Linked DNA regions of Homo sapiens: region 1 is linked to region 2. Evidence: fine-mapped expression QTL. A gene starts in region 2. The other region holds a variant in brackets. All regions are shown on one strand. Distances are between the middles of the regions.

The links.
Region 1: its variant is fine-mapped to the expression of FCRL6 in macrophages (Nedelec 2016, PIP 0.95).

The regions. Positions count from the first base shown.
Region 1 is chr1:159,828,846-159,831,758 of GRCh38, reverse strand. It overlaps SLAMF8 (SLAM family member 8), which reads right to left. Exons shown (of 5, transcript NM_020125.3): 2 at 1,567-1,893. Among named protein-coding and RNA genes, the nearest start is that of SLAMF8, 3.4 kb to the right of the region's middle. The variant G/A (reference allele first, on the strand shown) is at 1,444.
Region 2 is chr1:159,801,123-159,804,035 of GRCh38, reverse strand. It overlaps FCRL6 (Fc receptor like 6), which reads right to left and starts at 1,676. Exons shown (of 10, transcript NM_001004310.3): 1 at 1,581-1,676. The coding sequence starts at 1,611. It overlaps LOC105371464 (a long non-coding RNA gene), which reads left to right. Exons shown (of 3, transcript XR_922195.2): 1 at 1-1,498; 2 at 1,889-2,088.

The sequences.
Region 1 (2,913 bases), 28 kb before region 2:
GAACTCCTAAGGACGGCTGCTTGGCAGCTTCGTGCAATTAGTTCTAATCACGCTATGTATTTGGAAGCAATAAAACAGCAATTTCCTTAAAATCTGTAATTCAGCTGCTGAGAACAAGGCATTTTAGAGCTTAGTGGTGTGGGTGCTGCATGTATTATCACATTCAATGTCCTCATTTCACATGTGCGGCAGCTGAGACTCAGATCAGAGGAGGGGCTCCAGGGCTGCCTGTATGGTGGGGTAGGTTATTCACTACACAAGGACATTGGGCTAAGGGGGGTCACAGGGTAACAGGTGGCAGGGGGTGGGGGGTGCTGAAATCCAGCCAGCACTCTGCTTGCCAAGATGAGGCTCAGGGCTGCGTGCATCCAGAAAGGCACCTTGCAATTGCATCGGCACCCTGAGTGGCTCGCCCAAGGACAGCCAGTTAGCTGTCTCGGGGGGATTCAAGACATCTCCCCAATTTGCTTACAATCTTTATCTCCCTCATGGCTACCCTCTTCCCAGCTGCTACCTCTGCTTTCCATTCTTAAATCTGGACTCCCCTCTCTTCCACTCTATCTAAATTTCTAAGGTTTTACTGAAACAGTGATTTAGGGTCACCCATGCCTCTTTTCTAGCCCATTAGGTAGATAAATGAGAGCTGAAAGCCACTCTTTCTTGACCAGAAGACAAATGATGAAGGTGGTGGAGGTGGCTGTGGTGGAGGTGGAGGTGGAGTTGTTGGGAAACAAGGCCCACGCAGCCCCCAGTCCATGCAGCCAACCGAGGTGCTGAATGTAGCTGCGCGAATGGCTCTGCAGACCCATGCGAAGCAGAAGTCGCACCCAGCTGGGCCTGCCAACCCACGGAATTATGAGAAGTAAACATCGTTGTTGTTTTCAGTCAGTAAGTTTTGGGATGGTTTGTTTTGCAATGATGAATGACTGAGAGAACCCATGAATCATATATAGTTAAGATCTCTCTAAGAAGCCCTTTTAAGAAATGTGTAAATTCTATACTTTTAATTACAGTTTCATTATAATTTGATTTTTAAATAAACCCATTATGTCATAGTTTAGTATGGTACATCATTTTTTTTCCTTTAGACTAATGACACATAGTCTACACAGACTACATAGACTACATAGACTAGTGGCACATCTTATAGTCTATGATGATCCTTTAGAACTGAGGAAGCACAGGCCAGGCTCTGTCCTGGATGCCACTGCAAATGCCACTGCATTTCATCCTGTGGGTACTCTACATGGTAATATTACAATGCCCATTTACAAAGGAGAAAGGTGAAGGCCAGGGAGGCTAAGCATTGTGTCCAAGGCCACTGAGCCAAGAAAAGACTGAGCTAGAGTTCAGGCAAGCACTGTGAAATGGCAAAGCCTGGCTGCTGCAGCCAGGAGGAATTTTCTTAGACGTGACTGCCAGGGAGCAGCTGTTCCCTGAGTC[G/A]GCAACATGGTCAGAGACCAGAGCTTTCTGGAACCCAGCTCTCCCTGGCTGCTATGACTCAGGATGCTCGTCTGGTGCTTTGTGGGGGAAGAGGGCCAGGCAGCCAGTGTCAGACACACTCACCGTACACCTTGAGCTGGAGGGTCTGGGTCCAGGGCTGGCCCCTTGTGTCCACCATCAACACGGAGAAGTTGCCGCTGTCTCCAGACTCCAGCGGCCCGAGCTCCAGGCTGAGGTTGCTGTGTAGCTGGGCTCGGCCCAGGAAGCGGGAATGGTACAGAGTCTCCAGGGAGCCTCGGAAAAACGTGGCCAGGAGCTCTTCTGAAGGCCAGAGAGATCGCCAGATAGCCTCACGGACTTGGAAGCCAGGGGGACGCGCTGCCACCAGCAGCACCGAGCCCCCGACTTTGCTCAGCACTTGGGCACCAGTAACTGTAATGGGAAGTAGGGCTGAAAGAACAGAGCCCCTGGTCACTCTGCCTGCCCCACACTCCTCATCCTTCTTTGCATGCATCTGAGCTGCTATAGGGTGAATTGGGGCCCCTCCACTGACATTCCCTCCACTCAAGTTGAGGTTGCACTGTGCTAGGTACCAGGGATAAAACATATGGAAGATAACCCCAGTCTCTGCATTCATGGAACTTACAGAGGAAGCCAGACATTCAAGAAATCAATAAAAATGAATTCTGTTAAATACCATGAAGGGAAAAATGAGATGCCCTGGGAGAACACAGGTAGGGTGACAGGGGATCTCACCCAGCCTTGATGGGCTCAGAAAACAAATTGTTAAGCTGAGCCTTGAAGAGGAATGGGAATCAGCCAGGCCAAGCCGAGGGCGGCCTGGAGCAGGATAGGGAAGTGTCACCGGCAGAGGGCACAGTACTGACAAAGGCCTGGAGGGGGAGAGTTGGTGCCCAGGGGAACTGAGAGTAGTTCTCTGTGTGAGGAGTAGGAAATTACACTGCAGAGTTGGTAGGAGTCAGATCATGCAGAGACCTGAAAGCAATACTGGAGTTTGGGCTTTATCTGTAGAGCAATGGGGCGTCTCAGGTAGGTTTTAAGCAGGAGCGTAACAGGATTAGATGCATGGTTAGAAAGATCACTCCAGCAGGGATGTGGAGAATGCACTGGAGGTGGGCAGGACTTAGGCTGTTCATGTTAGTCCAGTGGAGAAGTGACGGCAACTTGAATTGAGGAAGGGAGCAACCGGGATGGGAAGAAGTGGGAGGAATTGAGAAACACGAAGATGGTGTGTAATCAGTAGGATTTGGTAATAGATTAGCTCTGGGGAGTGAAGGAGAAAAAGGAGTCGAGGACGGCTCCCAGGTCCTTGGGATCCACTGGATGTTATTCTCTGTGATCCAGAACAGGAGGAGAAACAGACAGGGGGTGAGAAAGCAAGATGCTGTTTTGGGGGACTATATTTGAGTCAGACGTGTATGGGAGACGCTTCTCCTTGAAGTGCCCCCC
Region 2 (2,913 bases):
AAATACATATTTCACATTCAGCCAGGTCCCCACATGCTCAATGTCAGGATTCCTTTCCTCCCGGAGCCCTGACAGCCAATAATAGTAATAGCCACCAATTTATTATGACCACACCCTGCTCTTGAGAGAGGAAATAGCAGCTCTACACTTATGGTAAGATAAATGTTGCTACACACCCAGCCCCAGTGTCTGTGTTTTAGGCTGTTTTTCCAGGGTCCCTGAGCATCAAGTGGGACCAAATTTGCTGGTGCTGGATTCTCCATTACACTGTGCACCAGTCAGCCGGTCACTGATTCCCTTCCTCTCCTCATTTGCTGTCTGTCATCCTCGTCCTGGGTTCCAAGCTGGAACACTCTCAGACTGTATCTAGACAAGTCCAAGGGCTGTTCCTTTTACAAGGTAGTGCCGGTAGTGCCATTTGCCCCTGGGAGTCTTCTGCCTGGAGTATATCCAGGCATTAGGCTATCCTGTCCCCGCCTCAGTGTGAGCATTAGACCTTTTCATTTGTCCAAATGGCCATTCATAGAACACACGAGTAGCATGCTATGCTGGAGAAGGAACATTGAGTGGAAGGGGCATTTTCCTCACAGGGTCAAATTCTCACAAACTCTGTCCAGGAAGAGGTTATATTTAGGAACAGTTTTGCTTTTCTAGTTCAAGGAATACAAATAGCAAGCAAGCTATTGGGACCAAGAATTAAACAAAAAGTAGGTCCACTTGGAAACTGTAAAGTGAAACAAAATATATGCCAAATTATTTCTTTTAGGTATAAGGGGGGTGACACTGGCTGAGACTGAGCTGGGTCTGGGGGAGCCCAGTGACCCTCTGCGTGCAATCCTCTACCCTTAGACCAGCTCTCTTAGTTACAAGTAGCCTGCATGAGAAGAAATGGAGAGAAGAGAGAGAGAGACATGGATCAGACAATGGAGTTGATTCTTCAAACCAGCCCCATGGATCTGAAACAGCTCCCAACAGAGAGAAGATGTAGGCGGAAGAGAGACAGTCAATTTGAAAAGGGCTTTGGTTACTCAGAGCACAGGCCTTTCAACCAGGTGAGAGGTCTGGCCATTGTTACCTGGTTCTAAGAAAATGCTGAGGCTCCATAAAAATATGTCACCCTGTAAAATTCCACCTCCCATTGCTGAGCAAAATGCCTGGGACTGTTTCCCCTCATTTCCCTGACTCCTTCCCTGTTGCCCCCAGCAGCCTCCTTCCCTCCTGCAACCTCCATTTCCTTTTGAGACAGCTCTGATTAGTATTTTAACCTGATGTCACAAGGTAGAAATGTCATTGGGAAGTTAGGGGACTTTGTAATGTGATTTTCTGCCTCCCTAATTTATCTCTGACATATCAAAGGGCTGCGCTGCCAAGGACCCAGGACTACGGGGTAGGAAACACTGAGGAGTTTCTCCTACCCCAGTGCCCATCTCTCCCAAGCATGCCCAGGTGCACACACCTGTCTTGAGCTCCAGCCACAAACCCACTGGAATTGGGAAAGGTAAGATGAGGAACTTGGTGTCTCAGGGATGACTTACGGTCCTTAGTGCTCCAAGAGGGGATGCCCATGCTCGTTGACTTACCAAAGAGCAGCACAGCCGTCCAGAGCAGCATGGGGCCTGTTCTGGCACAGCGGAGGGAACACAGGTCAGAAACAGGTCAGGGCGAAGCCGGCAGAGAGCAACCAGGCCTCAGGACCGAAGGTGGGTGGGTGGCCTGAGCTGGGTGGTGCTATAGCTTGATAGCCAAAATAGGAAGTGGAAAAGAAACTTACAAAGCTCTAATTGATATTTCCTCTTTGGTTGAAGAAGTATTACATGAATAAATTTTCCTGAACACTAAGTATGAAGGAGTCGGTAAATCACTAATAAATCCCTGACATTTTCTGCAGCTTCAACAAGCCTATGCCAGGGAACTAGGATGGAACATGGTTATGGGACACCTCCATTAGAAAGGTCCAGAGACTGCCCGAATTTGCTTGGCTTCAGCGTCATTCAGCCTGGGAGACAGCGCAGCACTGTAAAACTAAGATCATCTACCCCTTGACCACCGAGTGACCTCCCAGCTTCCAAGGAGCTCCTGTCTCCAGAGGTAAATGTGTGTGGATGCTGCAATGCGATGGAGAAGTGGAGCCCTGAGGATGCTTCACAGGATCCTCAGTTCAGGAGGGAATCAGACATCGATGAGTCTGGAGTAGAACACAGATGGAGCTTCGGCATCTGAGGCTTTTAAGACTGTCAGTATGATTTTGAGAACTATTCCTTAAAAGACACCATTAAGAGAAGGAACAGGCAAGCTGTGGTGTGATGAGATAGTTTAAATACATGTAGCTGACAAAGGGCCCACAGAAGAAATATAAGAATTTCTGCAAGTCAGTAAGAAAAGGACAGACAACATACTAGAAAAATGGGCAAAAATAATTGGATAGGTACTTCACAGAAGCAGATATCCACGTGTCAAATCAACATAGCAAAAGGAGCTAGACATCATAAATCACCGTGGAAATGCAAATTTAAACCATAATAAGATACCACTACACCTTCCATAAGAATAAGGGAGTGATACCAGCTGAGACTGAGCTGGGTCTGGGGGAGCCCGTGACCCTCCCCATGCAATCCTCTACTGAGTATTGGTGAGGATGTGAAGAAACTAGAACTCTTGTACACCACTAGTGGGAATATAAATTGGTACAGTCACTAGAAAATGGCTTGGCAGAATCTACCAAAACTAAACACAGGGATCCCTGATGGCTCAGCATTTTCACTCCTGGGTAAATGTCAAACAGAAATGTATACATATAAGCCTGAAAAAACATATACAAGAGTGCTCATAGCAGCATCATTTGTAATAGATAAAAACTGGAAATTATTCAATGTTCCCTCAACAGAAAAAGAGGTCACACATTCTCATCTCCTC